Homo sapiens: one gene and its partners. The protein of the gene in region 2 interacts with the protein of the main gene of each other region in a pairwise test. Each region holds a gene or a part of one and is shown on either strand. Other genes may lie near its edges. The genes, in order: GPR75-ASB3, HEXB, NXF2 and ASB3.

Region 1 (7,027 bases), on a different chromosome or scaffold from region 2:
CTCTGGCCACAGCTTCCTAAATTGCTGGGATTCCAGGCATGAGCTACCCTGTCAGTTTAGCGAAGACAATTTAAATGATTACCAAGAAGTTAGCAAAGTAAATATGTTTATATAACAACATCCAACATTCAGTGAAGAGGGAAAAGCTTACCGTGCTACGAAACCCTTTTATGGTAGTTCCTTTGAAATTTGTGTTGATTTTTTTAAGTATTAGGGTTATCTGTTAAATGTTTTATTTTGTACCCTTAGGTGCAAATGTCAATTGTCAAGCCTTGGACAAAGCTACACCCTTGTTCATTGCTGCTCAAGAGGGACACACAAAATGTGTGGAGCTTTTGCTCTCCAGTGGGGCAGATCCTGATCTTTACTGTAATGAGGACAGTTGGCAGTTACCTATTCATGCAGCTGCACAAATGGGCCATACAAAGTAAGTGTTAAAAACAGAAAATAAACATGGTCTCTTAATCAAAAGCTAATAAAGAATAAATCTGGGCTAGACCCTTCACCTCTAGGCAAAGTCTTTGATATTCTCTTCCCTACCAATCTGCTGGGTGAACAGATCTACCCCTAATCTGTCCTTCATGCTGTCTTTTGCTCCTACTATTCCTGCACTTTCATATTGTGAGGCAGAATTGCTACAGACTGGGTAGGCTCAGGGACTTTCTCGGGGTGTTGACTCTTCCCATTGATTTCTCTAGTTATGGCTGTATCCGCCGCCTCCTCCTCCCTAGTTTTATCCCAGGCATCTTTAAGCATCAATCTGATGAGGCCATCCATGTTACCTCTCTGACCCCAGAAAGCTTTTGAGTTTGTGATGCCTGTTGGAGTGTGTGCTAAGTAGTCCTCCCTGTCTTAAACCCTTTGACTGAACTTTTCTTGATCTAACCTCAAATTGGAGAGAGAGTAAATGGGGGTTCCAGGAATCTTAGAAGCTAGTAACTTGGTTATACCTGTGAGAATATGGCTACCTATCATAAATTGGCAGTCAATGATTTTTAGAAATATATGTGAGAATATGGCTACCTATCATAAATTGGCAGTCAATAATTTTTAGAAATACATGTTTAGAATCTTTAGAGCCATAATTCTATAATAGCACTTTTTATAGCTGCTATTAGTATTATTTAATTTAAAAAGTAATAGTAAAATATTCATTACTTAATTTAGTTTGTTTACATAGTAGGAAAACAGATTCTGCAATTTGGTCATTATGCCACTAGGTGACACAGTACTTTACTATTTCATTAATGATATTTGTAAGCATGTTTATGTCTTGTGGGAGAGTATAATTTTTCCCACCTACTTAAAAAAATTAAACACATTTATTAAAGTTAAGAGACATTAGACTATTTTAACAAAATACTTAGATTTAAAAATTTGATATTTTCCCCAATTCTTGATCATTTATTTAAACATAAGTGTTAGATATTGTACTCTGAACTTTAAATGGTACCAAAACTCTCCTGGGCATTTGTTCTCAATTTTGAGAATTCTCATTGTCACTGATGATTTTCTTTATAGCCTACTTCAAAGGTAACCCCTTTTGTGAGTGTAAGTTCTACTTAAATGTTATCTTAGACATACATTACATGAGGAAAAGTCACAAAGAGAAATGTAATACTATGAAAATACTTCAGAGTAGCCCTGTCTGTCTTTTCCCAGAAAGAAGGAATTTCCTGGCTTTAACTATACAGTTTTATTTTTAATTTTAGAAGGGTAGAATAGTCCTTTTTTCTTTCCAGTTGACTGCTAGAGGTAAGTTTACAAATAACCTAAGAACTTTTGTTTTAATTATTTTCTTAGAACTTTCTCTACCTAGGAGCCAGCTTCTTTATAAATCTGCCTCCATATTTAATGAGCTCACTTTTTTTTCAGATAATAGAATATTTTAGCACAAATTATAATTTCTTCCTGATGAAAACATTAGTCTTAATTTCATGCCAGTTATCATCTTTAAAAATTTTTACTAATTGGAAAAGAAAAACTAGTTGGTACTTTAAGAAGGAAAATAGTGCATTTTCTTGATGCCAGTTTATACTTAGTAGAATGATGTTTTAAATAATTTATTAAACCCTAAAATATCTAACATAAAATTTGAATTTTGGGGGTTAAGGTGGTGCTAGTAAGGTAATAAAATTAAAAGAGCACCTTTTCTGTTTACATATAGGAACATTAATTTTGTTTCAAATGTATTTAAAGACCTTTTTATTAAGCAATAATAAGTGTAACATTCTGGAGTAAATATATAGCATGTAATAGTTTAATGTTGTTGGTAGAAGGTACACCCTAGACAGAAATATTTCTTTAAATGAATCAGTTGGTAATTCTGAAAAAAATTGTGCTATAGAAATGTTGCCTACATTTATGCACATATACAAACACTAAATTCTCCTGAATTTGTGTATTTATAGAATCTTGGACTTGTTAATACCACTTACTAACCGGGCCTGTGACACTGGGCTAAACAAAGTAAGCCCTGTTTACTCAGCAGTGTTTGGGGGACATGAAGATTGCCTAGAAATATTACTCCGGAATGGCTACAGCCCAGACGCCCAGGCGTGCCTTGTTTTTGGATTCAGTTCTCCTGTGTGCATGGCTTTCCAAAAGGAGTATGTATATTTGCTATGTTTTTATTTTTTATTCTTTTTTGCTGTATGGAGATGTGTTTTGAAGTGACTTTCTTTCACGATGAAACTTAGTATCTCTGTTAGTGCTAAATTGCTATCTTGGAACACAAATAGGAAAAAAACTATGATGTTTCAGTCAAGCTGAAGCAGAAATGAGGTGATAATATCACATTGTTTTCCTTCCTTCTTTGGATCTGGATTATATTTTTAGTGTAGCAATCTTAGGGAATACGTACAATTTAAGTAGACGCAGAAATTTGCTGATATTTTTGGTCTTCAAAACAATTCAAGAATTAAAAATGGGGCTTTATCAAGTAAGGCAGTGACTGCTTCAGGTCATTTACCGTTTCAAATTTATAAGATATAAGCCTAAAAATTAAACTTTAGTTTTATAGATATTATTGTGTTTTTAATGTATTTGGTGGATAGCATTAAAAAAAATTTTTTTTTTTTGAGACAGGGTCTCACTCTGTGGCCCGGGCTGGAGTGCAGTGGCACCATCTTGACTCATTGCAACTTCTGCATCCCAGGCTCAGGTGATCCTCCCACCTCAGCCTCCAGAGTAGCTGGGTCTACAGGTGTACACCACCACTCCCAGCTAATGTTTTTATTTTTAGTAGAGATGGGGTTTCTCCATGTTGCCCAGGCTGGTCTTGAACTCCTGGGCTCAAGCAGTTCCCTTGCCTCGGCCTCCCAAAATGCTGGGATGTCAGGCATGAGCCACGATGCCTGGCTTTATATTATTTTTGGATGTGAGTCTAAATAATTAAGTTTTTAAACGCCCCCAAATTAATTATTTTTCTAATCTGTCATAATTCTGTGAAATAGACTAAGTGAAGAATTACTGCTGCCTTGTTAGTGTCTGGCCAGTAACTTTGTCTATAACACTCTTACAGTTTTAAAACACTAAGAATAAAGCTGTGTGTAAGAACAGCCATATTGAGTAATATCTGGTCATCCAATAATGGAATAAGTTATGAAGATAGATGCTATTGTGTTTAATGACACAGAAGAGGTTGCAGGCATACCTCAAATTGTATTGGCCTTCTTGAATTCACTATTATGAATCTCTATTTAATTTGAGTAGTTATCAAGAAATTATTTACTAAGCTTTTCAGCCTTTACTATCTCTTAACATTTGCCATGTAAAATTAGTAGTTCACTATAATTTGTTTCAAGTTTAAGCTTACACGTTTTAGTAGAGATAGGGTTTCACCAGCCTGGTCTCGAACTCCTGGCCTCAAGTGATCTGTCTGCCTCCAGCCTCCAAAAGTGATGGGATTATAGGTGTGAGCCACCCCATCCGGCCTCTTAAACTTATACATTTTAGTTTGAATATTTGGGTTTTGGTTAATCTGAGTATCTGGGGCCCACTTTATGTATAACTTTCATGATTTCATAGGATTTTCTTGTGTACCCCGTTAAGTTTTGTCTTTTTAAACAGAAGAGCCCTAATTACTTTAGTTGACCTTCAGTGAGGTTGCACTGATAACTTTTAGTTGCCTTTCTCTATCCCAAATCTTAAGTCCGTTACAGAACTGAACATTTCTTATTAGACCAGAATATAATGATTTTGGATTGCGCGCGCGCGCGCGCCTGTGTGTGTGTGTGTGTGTGTGTTCAATATGATGATGGTCTTTTTTGGCCTTCATCTTATCTTTTGGATGAACAATGTTTTTGGTCCTTCTGGTCACAGCAGCTAAGCTCACGCCTCATCACCTTATAAGTGTAGTTTGAATTAAGCCATATAATGTAGTACCCCTGTTAACTCTGAAACACCTTAAAATTAATGATATTCCTTGGGAGCTGGGCAGTATGTTTCATGCCTTCTGTAGATTCGGATAAATGAAATTAGGTGGGAAAGATCTTAAATAGGTTTCTGGATTTTCCAAGATTAGTTGAAATTTTAGGGGGCAGACCCTTTTTTCTCCTTTGATTTCTACAAAATCAGTCAGTAACACTAATTGACCATTTTGTTATGTAGAGAGCACTAAATAGATCCTGTTAAACTTACTGAGGAAGCTGAAACATACACACGATCCTTTAGGAATTTAAAACCTAATGGGAAAAACAGTATTTAGTGGCATTTACTTCACTATCTTCTGCTGTCTTTGGCAAAGAAGCGTTTTTAATGTATTTTTTTTTTTTTGTATTTTTTTATAGAGACTCATGGAAGGGAAGGTTCCTATTTTTTTCTGCTGTGTCTGGGATAACTGCAAATAGGAGCTATTATCTCATTCTTGAATAGTGATATAAATGATTTTTTTTCTTTTCCTTTCACAAGTACTCCAAAGTTGTATTTTTAAGGAACTCCACAGTTTGGTTTGCTTTTTATGTCTCAGTTACTCTGTAGAATTTTTTTCTGTGTAAACTTCAGTGATGCTAAGAAGTTCTTAACATGCAGTGGAGTAATTCCACTACAGCCTCTCTCTTTCTCTCTAATGACTACAAAAAACTGTGGTCAAAATTCAAAAAGAAACTACCTGAGGACTCTCAAAGGAACAAAAGCAGATAGATTATGAAAGAGAGTGGTAACTTGGTGAAGTGACCCACATGAAAACGAATTTTCCCATTTCTTTTTCCTTTTTTTTTTTGAGACTGTCTCGCTGTGTTGCCCAGACTGGAGTACAGTGGCGCGATCTGGGCTTACTGCAACCTCCATCTCCCGAGTTCAAGTGATTCTCTTGTCTCAGCCACCCAAGTAGCTGGGATTGTAGGCATGTGCCACCATGCTCAGCTACTTTTTGTATTTTAAAAGAGATGGGATTTCACCATGTTGGCCAGGGTGGTCTCAAACTTCTGACCTCAAGTGATCTGCCTGCCTCGGACTCCCAAAGTGCTGGCATGAGTCACCGCGCCTGGCCTTCTTTTTCTTCTGCTGTGTTGCCCTGAGGGCCAACCCTGATCTGGAGCTGAGTAGCACCAGTGGCACCAGCAGCTAATATCAGTCAGTAACATTAATTGACCAGTTGTTTAATATAGAGAGCACTAAATAGATCCTGTTAAACTTACTGAGGAAGCTGAAACATAGACACAATAGAAAGCCTGTTTTTCTGGTCAGAGGAATCAGGTAAATGGAACCCTGTGGGCCAGAGAATGGTAGGGAATCTTGGAGAAGAGAGAGCTTGGAGAAGCGGATACCCTAATTGTGCATATGAATTTGCATATTCCTGACTTACCCCAAGCTTTAAATGCACAAGATAGACCCAAATTGTTTTTTATTTTGTTTTGTTTTTGAGACAGGATCTCATTCTGTTGCCCACACAGAGTGCAGTGATATGATCATGACTCACTGCAGCCTCGACTTCCCTGGGCTCAGGCAATTATCCTGCCTCAGCCTCTTGAGTAGCTGGGACTACGGTTGTGCGCCACCATGCCTGGAATTTTTTTTTTTTGTATTTTTTGTAGAGACAGGGTTTGCCGTGTTGCCTAGGCTGGTCTTGAACTCCGAGCTCAGGTGATCTCCCTGCCTTGGCCTCTCAAAGTGCTGGGATTACAGGCGTGAGCCACAGCACCCAGCCAACCCAAAATGTTGAAAGTAAGATTTGAACTATCATCAGAGTCTCAGGCTAGACCCTGAGTGGCACATTCATGGGTCCAAGCTTAAAGCAGGAAAGTCAAGGCTTTTGAGAACTGAGCTGACGTTGGAACCACTGTATAAGGTAAAACAGAAATTGCAGTTTGAACCTAACTAGGTTATATGCTTGCTGAAATAAACAAACCAAAAAGCTAGTGTTCTTCAAAGGATTATAACAAGACCCAGGACTCAGAATTTATACAGCATAACATTCACAATGTCCAGGAGACAACCTAAAATTATTTGACATATGAAGAACTGATAAAACATTACTAAATCTCATGGGAAAAAGCAATTAATAGATGCCAGTCCTGAGATGGTCCAGATATTAGAAATATCAGATAATTGAAAGCAGCTCTTATAATGGTGCTTCATGAGGCTAACACACTGGAAAAAATGAAAAGGTAGAAATTCTCAGCTGAGTAGTAGAAACTATAAAAAAGACGGAAAAATACAATAATCTGCAATGAAAAATTTACTACATGGACTCCATAGCCAAATGAAAGATATAGGAAAGAGTAAATTAACTTGAAAGTAAACCATTAGAAATTATTAACAAAGGGGAAGACATGCTGTCTGGCAGCTGGAGCGTGCAGACTGGCGTGGCACAGCCATGCAGCTTCTGGAGTTTCTGTTGGTTAGAGATTCAGGAGTAGCTTGGTGGGCAGTTCAGGCTTGGAGGTTTCTCTTATAGTTGCATTAAATATCAGATGAAGCTACAGTCATTAGCAAGCTTGACAGGAGCCAGGGGATCAACTTCCACAGAGGCTCACTGACATGGATCACTCATATGGCTGGGTGTTGGCAGGAAACCTCGGTTTCT
Region 2 (7,027 bases):
GATACCAACAAAAGGTACTTTTTTTGTATTTAATATTAATATTAATATTTAATGCCTTTACAATATTTAATGCCTTTACAGAATTTTTATTTAATATTCTCTGATTTTTGGATACCAACAAAAGGTACTTTTTTTTTTTTTGAGATGGAGTCTCGTTCTGTCACCCAGGCTGGAGTGCAGTGGTGCGATCTTGGCTCACTGCTGCAACCTCCACCTCCCGGGTCCAAGCAGTTCTCCTGCCTCAGCCTCCTGAGTAGCTGGGATTACAGGCGCCTGCCACCATACCCAGCTGATTGTTTGTATTTTTAGTAGAGACTGTGTATTTTTAGTTTCACTATGTGGGCCGGGCTGGTCTTGAACTCCTGACCTCGTGATCCTCCCGCCTTGGCCTCCCAAAGTGCTGGGATTACAGGCATGAGCCACTGCAGCTGGCCAACAAAAAGTAAATTTTAAAGGCTCTGGTGAGAATTCTGGACCTTCTTTTGGGGCTTTATATGTAAGCTAGGATACTTTTGCAGGAAGGTAACAGGAACTCTGACTCAATCTGGCTCAAACAATAGGAAAACTTATTTCACACATTAGGATGTCCAAAAGTAGGGATGAATTTAGGGCAAGTTGACCAAGTGGCTCAACAGTGTTACCAGGGATCCATATTCTTTCCATCTCTGCTCTGTCCACTTTAGTGTAGTGGCAACTAGTCCAGCTCTCACATACAGAGAAACGAAGTTTTCTTGTGATTTGCTCAGAACTCCCCCTAACCCCCACATCCTATCACTGGTCAGAATTGGTTTTTCATTCCCAAGAGTGATGGATTACCATGATGGTTTCATTATTGGTTCTTAACGGGGCTTCATATGTCACTTCAGAGTGTGGGGAAGCATTTAAAATTCCCATGCCTGAATCCCATTCTAATAGATTCTGATTCTGAAGGCATGGACGTTGGGATTTTCAAAAAACTTCCCAAGTGATTCTAATGTACAGCTTGGGGTGAGAATCTCTAGTTGGACTTACAATGGGCAGCATGGATTTGAGGAGTTAACTACAATGTTACTAGCACATCTGTTTTAAAAATTTGGCTAAAATCCTTCTAAAATGTGTTTACATTTATTTCTCAAACAGATATCATGGCTATATTTTTGGTTTCTACAAGTGGCATCATGAACCTGCTGAATTCCAGGCTAAAACCCAGGTTCAGCAACTTCTTGTCTCAATCACCCTTCAGTCAGAGTGTGATGCTTTCCCCAACATATCTTCAGATGAGTCTTGTAAGTACCTATGCAATGTGAGTGTATTATATCCCAGGTGCTCGCTGACGGACTTAAGTGCCAAAAACTGACTCCATGCTAGGAACCACTGAGTTCTCAACCAGTGAGTTTATGATTCCTATTTTAAAAATAACCTTTAAAGTCTGATTATAAAAGTAGTACATAGTCTTTGTGGAAAATTTATTAAGTACAGTAAGTGCAGAAGAAGAAATAAATCACTCATAATCCCAGCAGATAGAATTAATCACTGTCATTTTAGGTGTATTTTTTTGCAGAGTAAAACATGTAAACATTTTACATAGACATAAATACAAACATGATAAGCATTGACATGAAAATGGCAGTAATTCTGTACATGTGCTTCTTGTATTTTTGTTGTATTTTTATATCATGCTTTTTTGCAAAATACATTATAAATTAAACATGAATTTCACTAGTTTTCTGTGATATCATTTTCAATGGCTGAATAATGTTCTGTCACTATATGGATGAGCTGACTTGGGTAATCTCTTTTGGACATCTAGGTAATTTCTTAACTTTTTGTCTTTGAAAACATCTGTATCCATGATCTCTATTTATAATCTAATTTTACAGAAAGATAATGCAGAGCTAGGGGAGAGGGTGGGTACAGCAGTTTCATTTGTAATCTGCTGTACAATATAATCAACATTTAGCTGTATGATTTTGTCCTCGTTGTTGCCTAAAACGTTATTCTCTAGGGCTTTTCCCAAATTGTTTTAGAACAAATAAGTGGGCGTGCCATTTCTATAGGGTATACTGCCTGAGAATAATGTGGAATTGCACCAAGGAATCAAAGAAGGGCAGTATAAGGACATGTGTAATATAAGATTCGTGCAAGAAAGAGCAGACAGGGGAACTAAGTGTAAAGATAGAGGCTGGACGCTGTGGCTCATACCTGTAATCCCAGCACTTTGGGAGGCTGAGGTGGGTGGATCACTTAAGGCCAGGAGTTCAAGACCAGCCTGGCCAATATGCTGAAACTGCATCCCTACTAAAAAATACAAAAAGTTAGCCAAGCGTGTTGGTGCGTACCTGTAATCCCAGCTACTCGGGAGGCTGAGGCAGGAGAATCACTTGAACCCAGGAGGCAGAGGTTGCAGTGAGCTGCAATCATGCCGCTGCACTCCAGCCTGGGGGACAGAGTGAGACAGTCTCAAAAAAAAAAAAAAAAAAAAAAAAAAAAAAAAAAAAAAAAAAAAAAAAAAGATAGGATGCCACAAATTTAGAGAAAAGAGCAACTCCATTACCCCCAGACTGCCTCACAGTTAAGTACATGTCTTCATCCTGCTGGTTTAGATGAGATTTCTCAATAATACATCTCTTTGAAAAAAAGCTTTCTTTCTCTTCAATTCCATAGCTGTTCTTAGAAGAGAAATAGGAAAATTCACCAACATCAGGTATCATTTCAATTGATACTCAGCACTCAGACACCATGTGAAGTAGGTTTTGCAACCTGAATTGAGATGGAAATGGTCATTACGTTGCCAAGGAATCTTTGCTGTCCATTGGCAATACAGATAACAGATTGTAAATTCCACAAAATGAAATGTATCGAGACTAGAGAGTCATAGCTTATCTTTCAGTCAGTTCTACAAACCCTCTTTATTCTGAAAGGGAAGTTTCTTGAGACAAGGTTATTGTGAAATTTTCAGCTGAAGAATAAACTAGTTTTTAGTCTTTAAACTAGTTGATGATGATGATAAAAGTAACACATATGAATGGAAATAACAAGATATCAAATGTCCAGAGTGGGAGGACATGTTGGAGGAGGTGACACATGTTAAAGCACCACTATTTATTAAAAATAAAAATATGCATGCCCTGAGAAGTGGACTAGTTTTTACTGCAGATAAATGGACACATAAATCAAGGATGTTTGATGCAGTTTGCCTGTAATGTGAAGAACTGTCAATAAAACTCAATGTCCATCAATAGAGGAATGGCTAAATACATCTTGTCAATCTATACTAAACAGTATAATCACAACAGTTAAGAATAAAGAAGCAGTATTACTGAGAACACACATGGAGAACTGACAAGATAAACTGCTGAGTTGAACAAAGGAAGCTGTATAATTATGTGTAGAGGTGGACCCTGTTTATATATCAACACACGTGCAGGAACACACGCATAAAGCAATACTATATTTTCTCCTTCCGTGTACATCTATGTCAAGCCTAAGAAAATGCCCGATAAGTATTTCCTCTGAGGAAGGTAGAGGGAGTTAGGTGAGTATCTCAAAGGAGATTTTAGCCTTATCTATATTATATTGCTTTTAAACAGAATATATAGATATGTCATTTGTATATTCACCCTCCAAAACAAATGTATTTATGGTGCAAAAAGATACAGAATGGGCTAACTGAAAAGTCAATGATATAATTCCTTTCACACTTCAGGGAAGTGATCATTGTTAACACTAATAACTTGGTTGTGAAGTAAAAATGGAAATTCTATAGCTATGTGTCCATATATTTAGAAAACCAAATTTCTAATTGTTATATGTATTTTCCACTGAGTTGAATTACAGTCCTGTTTAATATCAGCCAGTTGTCAACTATTAGAAAATAATTGGTATCAAATATATGCAATATATTAATGTTTTTTAGGTGACTGTGCTATTTCTGGAAGATCTCAAAACTAGAATGTGGCAAAAAAATGTTTTTAAACAGTGACCAATGGAGCAGTGAGCTCTAGGTAGCTGATTAAGAATTTGATACAGGCTGGGTACAGTAGCTGACACCTGTAATCCCAACACTTTGGGAGGCTGAGGCCGGTAGATGGCTTGAGCCCAGGAGTTCAAGACCAGCCTGGGCAACATGGCAAAACCCTGTCTCTACAAAAAAAAAAAAAAAAAAGAAAGAGAAAAATTAGCCAGGCGTGGTGGCACATGCCTACAGTCCCAGCTACTTGGGAGGTCGAGGCTGCAATGAACCGTGATTGTGCCACTCCACTCCAGCCTGGGCAGCACAGTGAGACTCTGTCTCAACAACAACACAAGAATTTGCTATAGATGTAGAGGAAACATAATTAGACTATGCTCATAAATAGCAATATAGTTCTTAGCCTGGCATTGGCTAACTCATCTAATGGAGTGTGGTTATCTAATGGAAAAGGCTATCTTGTCAGAAGACTATCACCTGAGATGCTCACACTACTGATAGAGCACTTTTGCCTACCTGCAGCTAACTATTCTGTGAGCATCTGAATGGTGGTGGTGGTAGAAGGTGATAAACCACCCCAGAGGACACAGTATTAAATCATTAATCTCCAGCCCATCAGTGTCTTTGCCGTGGCAAAGTCCAAAGCTGTTACACCCTTTAGCTTTCAATCTCTTTACCATCTGTGGGTTTACTATGTGGTTGATTCCACTCCAGACCTCTCTAAAAGACTAAATGACTATTGGGCCAACCTTAGAGTGTGCTTCAAAGATTGAAAGATTAGCCTCTCACCAGAAGCAGCTAACTGGAGTCCCATTCTGGATGATGTGAACTTTTAATTGAGTGGGACAAAGCTGAATTATTTTTATTGAGTGAGACAAAGCTGAACTAAGCTAAAGGGATTTGGAGAGTAAGTCTTAAGGCAGATTTGGATGATACTGAGGGAAGGTGGGTACAGGGCAAGTAGAAAATTCTGAATGCAAAAGAGTGGAGATACTCTCTGGCCTTAAAGGGAGTAGATTTGAGCGACACCTAGGGCGTTACCAAGGATTAGTAGGAACTGAGGAATGTTTGCACTTTCAACTAAACTCTTAGCTTAACTAGGACCCTACTCTGTTGAGGAGAAGTTGGAGAGACTAACTCTTTTAGGAAAATGAGGAAACATGGAGTTGACACCCAAATTCCCGTTCTGAGTGACTCAAGTGACTGGATGGTGGTGCTGTGACTCACTGAAATGAGGAACACAGAAGACCAGCAGGTTGAAGTGTGCGGAGGAGGGAGGGAAGAGTTCTGTTGGGGCATGTGGAGTCGAAGGAACCTGCAGGACATCCAAATGGAGATGTACAGGAGGCAGTTAGAGAAATAGGTCATGTGCTTGGGAGAAAATAATAGTCCAGAAATATCAATGACATGTTTAGGAAACTTATTGTGTGTCATTGAGGGATTAACAAAAGTGTGTGTGTGATTTTAAATCCTCAATACAGATACTTTACTTGTGAAAGAACCAGTGGCTGTCCTTAAGGCCAACAGAGTTTGGGGAGCATTACGAGGTAAGTTCCATGCAGTTTCATTGTTACTTTCCAGTAAAGGAAAATTTTCAGTTGGTGCTTTGTGAAATTAAGCACAGCAAAACTTTGCCGCCTTAGATCCTTTACAGAATGCTTTGTTATGTAGTTCCAAAATGATTTCCATTGAACATGTACTACATAAAGCATGGGAGAGGTCAGCACAGTGGCTCACGCCTGTAATCCCAGCACTTCGAGAGGCTGAGGTAGGTGATGATTGCCTGAGCTCAGAAGTCTGAGACCAGCCTGGGCAACATGGTGCAACTCCATCTCTACAAAAAGTACACAAATTAGCCAGGCATAGTGGTGTGGACCTATAGTCCCAGCTACTCTGGAGGCTGAGGTGGGAGGATTGCTTGAGTCCAGGACGTTGAGGCTGCAGCGAGCCTAGATCACACCACTGCATTCCAGGCTGGGCAACAGAGCAAGACCCCTGTCTCAAAAAAATACAAATAAATAAATACAGCATGGGAGAAAACTCATTTGACCTCTCAAAAAATGTTTGAAGGTTATTACATTCCTGCAGTGCTGTAATTCATTGATGCTCTTGGGACTGTAATGTTTATAGCACTACACATGGCCCCAACCTGTCCTGATTAGGGAATTTTGTTTCAGCTATCACTTCTGTTGACTTCAGAAGCAAGCATCTCTCTTCCCTAATTTTAAATTCCTGTAGATTTAGAAACATAACTAAGTTTGTATAAGGAACAGTGTCAAAAGGCAAATATGCTATAGAGTTGGTTAGAGGCAGTGGGCAGGGAGTAACTTGAAAAGCTTCTCATGAGAATTTCAGAGTCTGAACTTCAAAGTTTGACCTCAGGACATTTGCTGTTCAAAAGTTTCTTTTACCTTTCTTTCTAGGCAGATAAGATACTGTACTGACTTCCGAATAGCAGAGTTTTTAGAAAGGGAATTTAAAAAAACATGAACTAACCAAACTTAGTCATTAAAATAAAGGCTTGGGATTGATCATAGTCACTCACACCTGTAATCCCACCACTTTGGGAGGTTGAGGCAGGCAGATCACTTGAGGTCAGGAGTTCGAGACCAGACTGGCCAACATGGTGAAATCCCATCTCTACTAAAAATACAAAAAAAAAATGAGCCAGGCATGGTGGCGCATGCCTGTAATCCCAACTACTTGGGAGGGTGAGGCAGGAGAATTGCTTGAACCTGGGAGAGGGAGGTTGCAGTGAGCTGAGCTGGCACCACTGCATTCCAGCCTTGGTGACAGAGCAAAACTCCATCTCAAAAAACAAAATAAATAAAGATTTGGAATCTGACTCAGAGTGTTACCTAAAATAATCATTGTTATGCTATATATTTTATACCATAAGATTATAATTTTATTCAAAATAGAATATGAAAATATCTAGATATTTACTACAAATGTAATTTTATTTATGTATAATATTAGTGATTTTAAGCTTTTATTAGTCCAATCTGCCTGTCTCATCTGCGTCTGCTAAGGAGAAGAGACGCTTTTTTTTTTTTTTTTTTTTGAGACAGAATCTTG
Region 3 (7,027 bases), on a different chromosome or scaffold from region 2:
AGTAGACATGGCAAGGAAGGGGCATGAGTACCTGACATACAGGGTGAAAAGGCCAAGGGATGGATGTGTGGGTCAGAAAGAAGAGGGTGAGTACAGAGAAGACAAAGAAACACACATTGAAAACGCCTCCAGGGAACTGAATTCATCCTGGCGATATGCTCCCCTCTGAAAACCCTCCTTCCTTCCTGTCCATGTACATCTTGTCTGTCCCTGTTACTTCACTTCAAGTTGAACACCAGAGAAACAGTTCCCACACAGTCCGAAAAAAGGAGAGATGGTATAGGGCAACACTGTGCAATGATGAGTCTCTTGGACAGAAGGCTGGAGTCGGGACATTGGTTCCAGAAACCACACCCATCATTGCCCAGCAGACTTTGAGTGGGCCCTGTCGTACTGCTCATTTCAGCCTTGACACAGAGTCGCACATTATTGGTTATGGGCCTAGGATTTGTGGTCAGATCCATCAGGATTTCAATCCTGGTGCTAAATTCTATGATCCAAGGCAACTAAGTGACCTCGCTGTGACTCAAGTTCTTTTTGCTTGTTTTCCCCCTAACTCAAAGATAGTAACAGTTTCTACCTCATGGGCTACTGTAAAAATTAAGTGAGTTAACACATGGAAACACGTGAAAAGCACCTGGAGAAATGCCCGTGACCTAACAAGCACTATAAATAAGTTGTCTATTACTATGTCGAGAACGTAGTACAACATCTGGCGTTTATTGAGGGAGAAATACGTGTTAGTTGCATTCGTTGTTATTAGTCCTCCTGGAAATGACAAGGAAAAGAGATGAGTGAGTGGCATCTGGTTGCCATGTCAGCTATTAATGTATCTTACAAAGCGGCAGTAGTAAAACAGGGCAGCCCCGGCTCCAGTGGGGAATCATCTGACATATGGGTTCAGGGAACCAAAACAGAAAGCTCAGAGCATGAAACAGGTTATGCGGAAGGATTCAGTAGGGAGCTTAAGTTCCCGTTTCCGATCTTTCAGGAAAAAAAAAAATGTATTATTATGCAAGAAATGTTTCAGGTTTAAGTGGCAGACTATAAGCAACAAGGTAGAATACTCGTCACGCCACGTGATACAAAGGGAAAGAAAAACAAAGTCAGGTTATAAAACTGTATATTACAGTATGATTCCTCAGAAGAAAATATTAATGAGAAGTTATGTTTTCATTTGTAAATATAAACACAAACAAGTCAGGGTAAAGGGACACGTGAGAATGTCAACCATGTGTAGAAGTAGGTGGCTGGAATGCAGAATGGTTATACTTTCACACCTACGCTTCATACTTGTATAAGAGGATGTTTATGGCCGGGTCAGGGTTTTGTCAAGTGCTTGGGGAGAAGCACTTTTCCTATCGACCCATATACAGCATAATGGAAACCGTTTATTACTGACAATCAAGTGTGAATATCTTCTCTCTGATTAATAAGCTAACCTCACTTTTGACGACTCATTCAACTTCTCCTGATCCCAGGTTCCTTACATGTAAAAATCAGAGATTAGGGCTAGCTACCACCTCAATCAAGATATAGAACATATAACACAACCCAAAAGGTTTCCAGTCGATCTCCTCTTCATCCCTTGGCTCCGTGCAAACATTGATATACTTTCCGTTACTATATATTCATCTTCCTGTTCTAGGATTTCACACAAATGGACTTGTGCATGCTGCACCCCTTTGGGTCTGGCTTCTTTAACTCGGCATAATGTTTCTGAGACCCATCCATGTTCTTGACTTTTCCTTGCTGAGTAAAAGCCCCTTGATGGATATACCATAATTTGTTCACCTTTGATGTTGTTTTAATGAAGTTTCAGGAGGAAGTGAAAGGAGATCCTTGCCTTCAAAAAGCCATCTTTCTTGGGCAGTCTTCTATTCTTTCGTAATAGACACAATTTCATCCTTTATCACTCCTTTGTCTCTCTGGGGAAATATTATCTTAATGTCTGTTTCAGCCTCTTCCATTCTTTCTGTTCCCTCAGTGCCAATTATTGGATTTGTTGAGTTTGTGCCATCCCTTCCTTGCTGATCCTGGGTTGTGGATGTCTTCTGCAGAGGAAGCTCCACTGCTGAATCAGCCCTGGGCTCACAGACACTTAGCTTTAATCCATACCTTGCTCTGGCCTTGCCGGCAGTTTAGCTTCAAGCCGGACACAACCTGTGGTGGCCCCGGCTTTACCACTGTGTTTTCCCATTTCCTTTCTCTTTGAAAAAGACAATCTTCTCGATGTCTTACATGGGAATCTTTATTTCATATTTTCCAGCGTAACTATGTATTTATTATTACTGTAATATTATCATTCTGAAACCACAATTATAAAATTTTAAAATTAAATATTGTGAAAGGCTTGCATTCTTATGATTTAAATTGTTCAAGCAGTTCTCAACCATGATTACACATTAGAGCCACTTGGGGACACTGAAACAATTCACTAGCACCAGGACACACCCAAAACAATCAAAGCAGAACCGTGGTTAGATCCAGGCAACCACATTTTTTAACTCTCCATGTGAATTGCAGTGTGCAACCAAGGTTGAAAACAACCGTGTTAAAGCCTCAGTTTTTGGCTTATGCTTGCCAGAGGATCCTAGCAATAGCTGCCTCCTCATTTTGCTGACTTCCCACTCAGCACTGTTTTGGGGACCCAGTGAGTCTATTAGCTTAGAGGTCAGCAACTTATTAGCTTAGAGGTCAGCAACTATGCCCTGTGGGCCAAATCTACCCCAGATCCCCATTTCCTTCAAGGTCTTTTGCTTGCAACCAATTTTGCTGCCAAGTACTCTGTTAATCAAGGTCCCAACTTGCCTATGCCAGAATTCACTCTAGCTCTTTTATACAAACAAGATATCTCTAATAAAATATATTACATAGCTTACAAAAACTCTGTGAGGGCCAGAAAAGCAGGCCTGGATGCTGCACAGCCAGGAGAAGTCCACCCACGTGATGGAACTGCTACAGCTGAAATACCACTGCTGCCTGCCCGTTAATTGACATGCATGACAGAGACTGAATTCTAGAAACTCTGCAATGGCTGCCGCATGAAAACTGGAGACCTCCCTCATCACAGGTAGTCCACCCCACATATGGCTCCCATGTTATTCAGTTCCACTTCTGAGTCTCATGTTGGCACATACGCTTGATGCGATAAATATCCCATTTGAGACCCTAACTGCAAGGGACTCTGGTAAATTGTATGTGTGTGAGAGTGTATTTGTGTGTGTGTGTGTGTGTGTGTGTGTGTGTGTGTGAGAGAGAGAGAGCGAGAGAGAGAGAGAAAGAGAGTGTGTGCGCACATGCGTGGGGTCATGTGCATGTGTGTTTCCTTTCATGTTCCAACTTTCTAGTCTCTACAGTACAGGAAAGCATATAAGAATGTTTAAGAGTGCTGGAATAGTTGCCAAGTAAGCAGATTCATCGTATATTTCACAAGACATGTTTTCTGTTGTAAATGGTATATTTACAATAATGATGGTATTTTCTTTGTTACAATGGTTTGTGTATGTTCGTCTTATAGCCAACAAACTTGTTAATCTCCATTATTATTTTTAATTTTCTGTAGCTTCTCTTGAGTTTCATATGAAGATAGTCACGTTGACAGCTTTTTCACTTTTATACACGTATTAATTTATGTATGTAGGCATGCATGTATCACAGCTTACCGCACTGCCTAGTATGACATATGGCTTACTGCACTAGACTCAGTACGACATTGAACAGAATTCGTCATACCAGTCATCTTTATCCCTTTTCTGATTGTAAGGAGAATACTTCTAATGTTTTACTATTAAGGGTGGTGTCTGATGGGGTCTATTGTTTTGATACCCATTGTCAGTTTAAAGAGATAGCTTTCTATATTACCGATCTGCTGAGAATTATTGGTATTGTTGTTGTTCAATCCCGGTTGGTTAATTTATTGCATACTTTTTTTTTTAACTGGATCTTTTGTGGTATTTGTCCTGTCCTCCTCCCTTTATTCAGCTAATGTGTTAGATTACATTATGGATCTCTTAAAATGTTAAACTCAGCTTGCATGCTTGGGATTAAACACAACCTCGTCATGCTGTATTATCTGCTTTACCCATTGTTGGGTTTAGTTTGCTATTAATTGATTTATATTATTTGCGTTTATGTAACTAATTCGGGTTGGCTAGTAATTTTGCCTTTGCATGTATTCCTTGTCAAGAATACATTGAATAAACCAAGGTTTTCTATTCCTTCAGTTTGGAAAGTTATATATATTTTTCCCCTGGAATTCATCTATTTAATCTAAATTTTCAAATTTTCACATCCTTTTCATAATGTGATCTTTTTCAATCTTTTCTGTCACTGTAAGTGTGACACTATCTTCATTCCAAAAGTGGCTGACCCGCACCACCTCGCTAATTTTCTCTGCCCGTGTGGCCAGAGATTTTATCATTATCCTGCGCTTCTGAAACACTGACATCTAGCAATTTTGTTCAACTCTCTCACATGGTGTTTTCACTTTCATCAAGGTAGGCTCTATTTTTTTATCATTTTTCCTCAACATAGCGGTAAGACATGGGGATTATTCCACATTAAGTAAATGATCAATGAAAAGTCCTTTCATCTACCACCTGGTTTTATTTTTATAATTGAATACAATGGATATTCAAATATCCAATACATTCCCTCATTTGGAAAAGACCTCTGGCTTATCAGTGCTGGTCTTTTTAACCAGTGCCATCGTGTCTATTCAATTAAACTATCAGATGATTAAGGAAGAGGGCATTGCATCATTGATGTAAAAGAATTTTTACTATAAGCTTCCTTTAAGAGAAGAGCAGGCAGCGTAGAAAGAAGCAGAAAGGACATCGACTTTGAAATCACGCCTGGGTGGATTCAAATCCTGATTCTGTCACTTACGGCCGATGTGATGTTAGGCAAGTACTTAATCCCTCCCAGCTTTGATTCCTTCATGCAGTAGTCAGTGCTGCCATTTACCAAGTGTTTACATTCTCCCCTGTACCAGGCACCTGGTAGGACTGCCCGACCCGACTGCCTTCCTTGGGGCAGGGCCGTGCATGTGACTAGCTCTGGCCAATGGGTTGTGAGTGACGAGTGACACGGGTTATTTCTGGGTCAGAACCTTTGGTTGTTGGTTTGAGACCCTCTACGGCTCTCTCCCACTCTGACGCAGTGAGTAACCCCTTTCTAGATGGTGGCTGCTCCATTAGTTTGGGTCTCTGAGTCATTCCAATAAGAATGGCTCAGAACCCAACATCCACCATCCCGTGAAGGATATGCACCTGGCATAAACATGCAGCAGGAGTGAGAAATAAGTCACTGAGGTTTGGGGGTTGCCTATAAGCACAGCGTTACACTCAGCCTCTCCTGACTCATATATCTCATCTGTCAATTAAGATAACACCCTCTCAGGACTTTCCTGAGGGTTAAATGCAGTAACTTGCATGACAGCCGAGGTTATCACAGTGCTTGACATATGACAGGGGCTCAAACTATGGCAGCTGTAATTATTAAGTAATAATAAAATGGTTCTGAAGAAGTGTGGTTTTTTATTGTGTAAAATGAGCGGTACTGCATCTGCTTGTCCTGACAGGTAAGTTGTATCTTGTTTTCAAGAGTGGGGGCACTTTATTTGCTGCCACAGGTAAGGCTTCCTAATGACTTGCATTTATGCACATATTGTCTGCCACCACCATGGTATCAGATGCATGCTTGGCGGTATCTCTGAAGAGTAAAAAAGTACAAAGATTCAAGCAGGAGAGACTGACTGATGACATGAGATAAAATGAATTAAAGAGCAACAATCAATGTCTTAATGAGCAGACTAGATTACAACTATTATAAACCCACATTCCATTGTTCTGAGTAAACAAAGGCACAAGGTTTTAAAGTGTTAGAAGATGTAGTCTGAACAGGGTTTCCCCAAATATTTTCTGAAGAACACTGGTACCTCAAATGCTCTGTGGAAAAAAATGTTCCATTCCCATACAAGTTGGGGAAAGTAGCCCCCCCTTTGAGACTCGTGTTGTTTATTAGCATATCATCTAAAAAAATCCTACAGTATTCGTTTACCTTCAGTTCTGTATGTCCCACACTTCTTTAGAGTAGAGCACATTTTGTTGTTGCTTTGTCCTGACACTACAGTCTCACAGAACGAACTTGGAAATGCTGAAATGAGAGAAAAATAGATTATTCAACCTACATGTAATATCAAATATCACAAGTGACAATATTCTCTAACCATCTGACAAGCAATATTTGAAACCCCGTAAGTTTAAGCACAATCTTGCTATTTGCTCAACTTCATTCACCCAATACCGCTTTCATGATGTACCAAATGTTATCACCCATGATTGTACCTTAAATCCATTCACTATACTTTTTTCCACAGGAAGAAAAGGAGAGAGTTTTCAGAAAGGAATCTAAGAAGCAATCATTAGAAAATCAGGGGTTGATGGGGGGAGAATCAGAAACAAAAGAGTGTGAAGCTATACTACTATAAGCTACTGAGAGATCCTAAGCGCACACACACACAAAAAAAATGTCACCCACTCCCAAATGTACTTTTTAAAGCCAATGGAGTTCAAATAAAGTATAACAAGTAAATTCTGAATCTTCACATCATGACGACTTGGACACTTTTATTGAAATATCAAATTCTCTTTTTAAAAAAATTCCCGATTCCCCTCTCTCCCTTTCGCCCACCCCCCTGAGCCCATGTTTAGAAGGTTTAGTAGAAAAATAAATCATGGAAACAAAGAGAATCTTTACATAATCAAATAAGAGACAGAAATTAAGATTGGGTCTGGAATCGTCTATACAAACTGGGATCTAGGCAGTCTCGAGTGTCCTTAATAACAACATGGTCTGAGGAGGGGCAGAGGACAGAATCACCTGGCACAGACGGTGAATCGGGCAGAGTGACAGGCAAGGGTAGGGCTTTTAGTGTGGGGGCGGGAAGGGGGGGGAATCCCATCAGGCTTCCACAGCCCTGCCCCTGAGAAACGACTTACGAGTTCATGAATCCCTGCCGCCC
Region 4 (7,149 bases), on a different chromosome or scaffold from region 2:
CAATGTATATGACATGCTATAAACCATGGAGTTGGTCAAATAGTAGTGCTTGGGAAAATCTGAGTAAAATATATTCTACATCAACAACAGAAGTAGACAGAAAATTAGACTGATTTGTGGTTTAATTTGGTGAAATCTCTGAACTCTATAAAGTAATGAATAATTAAACATAACGACAGAGGTGATACTTCAGAAGGAAAATATTAACACAAAAACAAAACTGAGTGCTAAACATCAATAAGCAAAGAATATCATAATTATTAACTCTAGTTAATGTACACATCAAAAATACACAAATTTTTTGGCCAGGTGAGGTGGCTCATGCCTATAATCCCAGCGCTTTAAGAGGCTGAGACCAGAGGATAGTTTTGACCAGGAGTTTGAAACCAGCATGAGCAACATAGGGAAACTATCTCTACCAAAACACACAAACAACCCCCATTTTACAGTTTTGGTGCTTAATACTTTTTCTAAGCAAATCTGAAAGCAAGATTGTAAATAATTATATATTGTTTTGATATATCTGAATGGGAAGACAATTTAAAGCAGACAATTTTAAAGCTTAAAAAATTCAGATCTTCTAATCCAGTCTCTTCCAATTTCAGTTAGTAAACAGACAAAGGACCTTATCCTATTTCATACAGCTGCATATTAGTTAGATACAAATGTCCAACCCGCGGCCAGGCACGGTGGCTCATGCCTGTAATCCCAGCACTTTGGGAGGCCGAGGTGGGCGGATCACTTGAGTTCAGGAGTTTGAGACCAGCCTGGCCAAAATGGTGAAACCTCATCTCTACTAAAAATACAAAAAAAAATTAGCCAGGTGTGGTAGCGCACGCTTACAATCCCAGCTACTGGGGAGGCTGGGCAACAAGAATCGCTTGAACCCGGGAGGCAGAAGTTGCAGTAAGCTGAGATGGCGCCATTGTACTCTAGCCTGGGTGACAGAGCGAGACTCTGTCACAAACACAAATGTCCAACCAACTGGCCCATTAAAAAAAATGGCAGCGCCAGGTGAGGAGAGTAGTGGTTTCTTTTCTTTTCTTTTTTTTTTTTTTTTGAGACAGACTCCTCTGTCGCCCAGGATGGAGTGCAGTGGCATGATCTCGGATCACTGCAACTTCTGCCTCCAAGGTTCAAGCGATTCTCCTGCCTCAGCCTCCCAAGTAGCTGGAACTACAGACATGTGCCACCATGCCCGGCTAATTTTTTTATTTTTAGTAGAGACAAGGTTTCGCCATGTTGCCTAGGCTAGTCTCAAACTCCTGGGCTCAAGTAATCCACCCAGCTCGGCCTCCCAAAATGTTGGGATTATAGGCGTCAGCCACTGTGCCCAGCCAGTAATTTCAGTTAAATGCAAAGGGAAGCCTTAAGGTTATAGAAGTATTAAAAAAAATCAAAAGACCAATGATAATGACTATTGTGGCTTATTTTTACATAAAGGACATAGGCCTTGTGACAATTCACAGAACACTCTAGATTTTTCTCAAAGTAGCACAGACTTAAAGAAAAAAAAGCCAGATGCAATGGTGACCACCTGTAGTCCTCGCTGTTCAGGAGGCTGAGGCAGAAGGATGGCTTGAGCCCAGGAGTTTGAGGCTGTAGTGAGCATAATCATGCCTATAAATACCTACTGCACTCCAGCTTCTAAAAAAAGAATTTTTTTTTTTTTTTTTTTTTTTGAGACAGAGTCTCACTCTGTCACCCAGGCTGGAGTGCAGTGGTGCAATCTTGGCTCAGTGCAACCTCCACCTCCCGGGTTTAAGCGATTCTCCTGCCTCGGCCTCCCAAGTAGCTGGGAGCACTGGTGTGCACCACCACGCCCAGCTAATTTTTGTGTTTTTAGTAGAGATGGGGTTTCACCACGTTGGTCAGGCTTGTCTTGAATTCCTGACCTCATAATCCGCCTGCCTCTGCCTCCCAAAGTGCTGGGATTACAGATGTGAGCCGCCGCACATGGCCAAAGCATTTTTTTTTTGAAATAAAATTGTTAGATACGTGAAAAGTTGGTGTAGCAAATGCTAAGACTGAAAGAAAATGGAATGACAATTTGGTAGTGACCTCTAAAAATGCTAGTTTTAGTCGCTCGCTTATAGTAAGTTTTCAGGGCTGCATATCAGCAAGTTTTTTTAAATTAAAAAAAACACAGGTGCCAAGAGTAAAAAATTTTAATGACATAATTCTTCAAACATCTGCCATATTCACTCCAAGTGTGCTCTTTGGATACAACAACAGGTATTAAAGTATTCTCTTCCAAGCCTGCTAAAGTTATATCTGATTCATAACAAAATTTTACATAGGTATTTCAATGTATCAATATTTTGTGGCATTAATACAAAGAGAAATTTGACGTCCCAGAAAAATATTTACCTAGATAAATTCAGAACATTTGGTTCACACATGTAATCCCAGTATTCTGGGAGGCTCAGGCACGAGGATTGCTTGAGCCCAGGAGTTCGAGACCAGCCTAGGCAACATAGTGAGACCCTGCCTCTAGAAAAAAAAAAAAAAATTAGCCAGGAGTGGTGGGATTTCCCTATAGTCCCAGCTACTGGGAAGCTGAGGAGATCTCTTGAGCCCAGGAGGTCGAGGCTGCAGCCAGTGGTGACCGTACCACTGCACTTCAGAATGGGCAACAGACTGAGACCCTGTCTCAAAAAACAAACAAAAACAGAAAAACCCAAACCAAACCAAACCAAACCAAAAAACCCCTAACACTTGCAAATAGAAAGCTATGTGGTAATAACATCCATTAACTTGACACATCTTGTTTTGACATCATAGTGTCACTTACTGTTTCAATGAAATGGTAATGAAAGAATATAATAAAGTATTGCAAGTTGAATGCTTGAAGGTAATTGGAATAAAAAGTTTAAAAAAATTTTGCTTTTTCCGGGACTTCAATTTGAAGTAAATGAGTTAATTACTACATGGTAAGTGTCATAAGAGTACAATATTTATTAGCCTGCAGTAGGTACACGTGGACAGGAAGACTTTTCAGCGGTCCACTCCCCCAAGAGGGAATTTTCATTTCCGCGAGGTTACAAATGTTCTTCACTACAGGAAAACTCAACATAGAAGCTCATGTTCTGGGGACTCAAATAACAGTCGTAATACATGAAAACTGTAAAGGATATTCTGCATAAAGGGTCGTTAACATCTCACAGGCCAAATAGCCCTCTCAGAAACAACTAGGAAAGGAAAAAGTTCCCTTGGAGCTGTGCGTTTGCGTATGTCCGTGTGTGTATACAACTGAGGGAGAACGAATACGAGAGAGGGAACTCGAGTCTGAAGTACTGTGGTGTGGGCAGGGTGACATGTAATACTGAAGGAAAGAAGTCTGCTGGTGAAGTAAGAGCCACAGTTAATTTTCCGAAAGGAAGATGAGTAAGTGCACCTGACGTTATTCTACGAAAGCTGCTTCTGCAGGGTGGGAATGTTGGGAAGCAAGGTCTAGTGCGACAGAATTGAAAAGGTGGAGAGCAGGTGATTGCTGGATCCCTAATGCTCAGCAAGGGGGACGCATCCACATAACGTGAGAACGAACGAATGAATGAACGCTGCATAAAAGCAGCTTTGGCTTGGGGAAGGTAAGAGTCTGCAGAGAAGGTCTTGGGGAGAAAAAGCAAAGAAAACCGAGGGAAGAGGCCGAACCCTTAGTGTCAGGAGGAGGGGTGGCTGCGGGGTTAGTGAGGGCACTGACCAGAGAGAACTCGGTGCCGGGCCAGTTGACTCGGAAAGGGATGTCATCGCTGAGTTGAGGAAGGGCTCGGCCGCCGCCGGACGCCTCCAGGAGGCCGCAGAGGACCAGTAACACCGGCCCGCCCGGGACCAGACTCCGTACGCCGCCGCCTCCTTCCTCCATCCTCCGCCGCCGCTTTCTCCAGCCACCGCCACAACCTCCTCTGCTCCAGGAGGAGAGGAGGAGGAGGAGGAGGTGGAGGAGGAGGCGGCGGGACTATAAAGCGCCCGGGTATCACCGGCCCAACCGCCGCCACGTCTCCTTCCGGAGAGCCCGGCAACGCCGCCTCCGCCCCCTTGAGCCTCCTGTCACCGTTTCCGGGGCAGACGACATATCAACATCCGGGGGTCGCGGAGCCGTCCGCCTACGGGGGCCGGGACGTCGCCTGCGCGTCTCTCGTTTTCGGACGGCTGCAGCATCGCGGTGGGGATCGAAAGCGGGGGCTTCTGGGACGCAGCTCTGGAGACGCGGCCTCGGACCAGCCATTTCGGTGTAGAAGTGGCAGCACGGCAGGTCGGTGAGTCTCGGAGGCGGCAGCCGCTTCCTGAAGCCATTCCCGCTGCTCTCCAGTGGGCAGGCAGAGGTTTGACCCACACGGAGTGATAGCGGGAAGAAGACAGTGTGAACCGTGCGGGTGCGGGTCCTTAGATGAGAAAATTCGAAGTAGCGATGAGATGTGAGAAATGGCGGTGTTCCTGACTGACCTGCCTTCTTGCAGCTTTTCTTCTTTTTCTCCGCATTTGGCATTTGTACACTTCATTTTTCCCGCTTGAGGCTTATCTCCATCTCTTCTGCTGTGGACCGTGGCCATCTCGTTACTTAACAGCTTCTGACTAACGCAGGGCAGTTTGTTCAGCGACTGCAACTCTGTGTTAGGGGAAACCTGGGGTGAGGTAGCCCGCCATCTCCCCGTAGGTGAATACCGCAAGCCTCCGAATTTGGCGTGGTGGGCGACTCTCGTGGAATGGGCAGCTAGACATCACAACCCTACATTTTTACCCTCCATCTCTAGATTGAAGTGTTGGGGTGTTGTTTTATCAAGGAAGCTGGTAAGGTTCCTTATGTGAGGTTTAGCGCCAGATGAATGTGTGTGTTTATGAACTAAGTCACGTCTGACTGCATCCCCAAATTAGACAAAAAGTTTTGTTTTTCCCTCCCCCTCTTTAGAAAAAATGCCATTGTCTGTTTTGATCTCCAATATAATGGACATAGAGTGTTGGCTTTAGAGAAATTACCATTCCCTAAAGCTCGACAGTCTTGCTAGATCTGTTAAAGACTGGTCGCCCCCACTTCCTCAGATTTGAACCAAATCAAAAAGCAGGAAGGACAGTCCCATATTCTATCTTAAAAATTTTTTTTTAACATCAGGAATCCATAGTATCAAAGAAGATAACTTTCTTCAGAATTGTTATTCGCTAATTATATTCAGCACTTCTTATTAATGCTTAATGTGATCCAGACTCCTGGGATTTTTGTTGTTGTTGTTTGTTTTGAGACAAAGTCTCGCTCTGTCACCCAGGCTGGAGTGCAGAGGCATAATCTTGGCTCACTGCAACCTCCGCCTCTGGAGTTCAAGGGATTCTCCTTTTTCTCAGCCTTCCGAGTAGTTGGGATTACAGGCGCGCGCCGCTACACCCTAATTTTTGTATTTTTAGTAGAGGCAGGGTTTCACCACGTTGGCCAGGCTGGTCTCGAACTCCTGACCTCGGGTGATCCGCCCTCCTCGGCCTTCCAAAGTGCTGGGATTACAGGCCTGAGCCACTGTGCCTGGCCCCCCTGGGCTTGGTAAAATGCCAAATAAATGGGTTTCTGTCTTTGGTCACACAGTCTAGGCAGGGAGATTGTACAAACAAATAATTGCAAACTATTATAGTAGTAATAGTCAATTTTTTTTTTTTTTAGCATTTATTCTGTGCTAAGCACTAGTCTTAAGTCATGAAGGAAAAGAGATGTATTTGACGGAATAAAAATGAAAACTGTCTGTGAGGTCCTGTTTTAGCATTTAGGGCTATAGTGATTGAATCTGTGTTCAATAGAGCTGATGTTCAAGTAAGAGGGGAACTTAAATAAGTAAAATAATTTCTAGTATTGGTAAGTGCTGCAAAGAAACTAAGGTTATGTGAAAGACAATACCTGTAGGATGTGTTGCTTTTAGTACGTAAGTCAGAGGAGACTTCTGTGAGGAAGTGACATTTGAATTGTGACTTGAATGATGAAAAGAAGGGAGCCAGACAAATTTCTAGGCAGAGGCCCTGAGGCAGGAATGAGCTTGATGTGTTGGAGTGATAGAAAGAAGGCCAGTGTGGCTGGAGTGTAAGAGGAAAGTGGTAGAAGAAGTTTGAGAAGCAGAAAGAGGCCAGGGAGACAGCTCTGTAGGCAGGAGAGTGGACAGGACCCGATGTACATTTGTGAAGATCATTGTGGCTGCTGTGTGGAAAATTGATTGTAGGGGGTGTTGTGGGTTGAATTGTGTTCCCCAAAAAGACATGTTTAAGTCCTATCCCCTAGAACCTGTGAGTGTGAACTACTTGGGATAGGGTCTTTGCAAATATAATTCAAGTAAGGATGAGGTCATACTGAATCAAAGGGGGCCCTAATCTGGTGACTGGTATCTTTATAAGAAGAGGGAAATTTGGATACACATGGACACACAGGGAGAATGCCATGCCAGGAAGGAGGAGGCAGCAAGATTGCAGTATGTGTCTATAAGACAAGGAATGCTAAAGATTGCCAGTAATCACCACAAGCTAGGAAGAGGCAAGGAAGAATCCTTCTTTAGAGCTTTCAGAGAGAGAGAATAGCCCTGCTGACATCTTGATTTCTGACCTCTAGTTTCTAGAATTGTGAGACAATCAATTTATGCTGTCTAAGCTGCTCAGTTTGTGGTCATTTGTTACAGCAGCCTCAGGAAGGTAATAGAGGATGAAAACCAAAAAGTAGTTGAGACAAGTCTCAACCAGTTTAGAAGTTTATTTTGCCAAGGTTAAGGACGTGTCACAGACAGCCTCAGGAGGTCCTGACAGCATGTGCCCAAAGTGGTCGGGCTACACTTGGGTTTTACACATTTTAAGGAGCCACAGGACATCAATCAGTACAAGTCTTTTATGCTTTATTTATAGGTTGATTCTTAAACATTGAAAACTTATCAACTATTTACCATATTGTAATTATACAATCATCATTCGCTATAAAACTATTAAGTATGATTGCATCTGCAGAGAAAAAATGTAATTCTACCTCTGCCAATTAAGGTATCCTATTAGCTTCCTAATAATGGCACCATGTTTGCTAAAATAAACTCATTTTGCTCCTGAAGCTGTATTTCCAGCTCTCACACATGTAATTTAGACTAGTTGCTTTACAAGTCAGTTGCATACCTGTTTACTGAGATTTTTTTGTATCATGCC

Evidence for each region.
Region 1: the proteins of HEXB (region 2) and GPR75-ASB3 interact in binary tests that used the Homo sapiens proteins (3 or more experiments, as listed by UniProt).
Region 3: the proteins of HEXB (region 2) and NXF2 interact in binary tests that used the Homo sapiens proteins (3 or more experiments, as listed by UniProt).
Region 4: the proteins of HEXB (region 2) and ASB3 interact in binary tests that used the Homo sapiens proteins (3 or more experiments, as listed by UniProt).

The regions. Positions count from the first base shown.
Region 1 is NC_000002.12:53,709,966-53,716,992, reverse strand, and holds part of GPR75-ASB3 (GPR75-ASB3 protein), read left to right. Parts: intron 1-249; coding exon 250-427; intron 428-2,411; coding exon 2,412-2,609; intron 2,610-7,027. Other genes in the region: ASB3 (ankyrin repeat and SOCS box protein 3), read left to right, coding at 250-427, 2,412-2,609. UniProt on the Homo sapiens protein: Probable substrate-recognition component of a SCF-like ECS (Elongin-Cullin-SOCS-box protein) E3 ubiquitin-protein ligase complex which mediates the ubiquitination and subsequent proteasomal degradation of target proteins. Recognizes TNFRSF1B.
Region 2 is NC_000005.10:74,688,209-74,695,235, forward strand, and holds part of HEXB (beta-hexosaminidase subunit beta isoform 1 preproprotein), read left to right. Parts: intron 1-1,119; coding exon 1,120-1,265; intron 1,266-5,430; coding exon 5,431-5,496; intron 5,497-7,027. UniProt on the Homo sapiens protein: Hydrolyzes the non-reducing end N-acetyl-D-hexosamine and/or sulfated N-acetyl-D-hexosamine of glycoconjugates, such as the oligosaccharide moieties from proteins and neutral glycolipids, or from certain mucopolysaccharides.
Region 3 is NC_000023.11:102,306,158-102,313,184, reverse strand, and holds part of NXF2 (nuclear RNA export factor 2), read right to left. Parts: intron 6,160-7,027; 5' UTR 6,107-6,159; coding exon 6,064-6,106; intron 1-6,063. UniProt on the Homo sapiens protein: Involved in the export of mRNA from the nucleus to the cytoplasm.
Region 4 is NC_000002.12:53,783,927-53,791,075, reverse strand, and holds the start of ASB3 (ankyrin repeat and SOCS box protein 3), read left to right. Parts: upstream 1-4,122; 5' UTR 4,123-4,255; exon of another isoform or gene 4,256-4,791; intron 4,792-7,149. Other genes in the region: ERLEC1 (endoplasmic reticulum lectin 1 isoform 1 precursor), read right to left, coding at 3,704-3,865. UniProt on the Homo sapiens protein: Probable substrate-recognition component of a SCF-like ECS (Elongin-Cullin-SOCS-box protein) E3 ubiquitin-protein ligase complex which mediates the ubiquitination and subsequent proteasomal degradation of target proteins. Recognizes TNFRSF1B.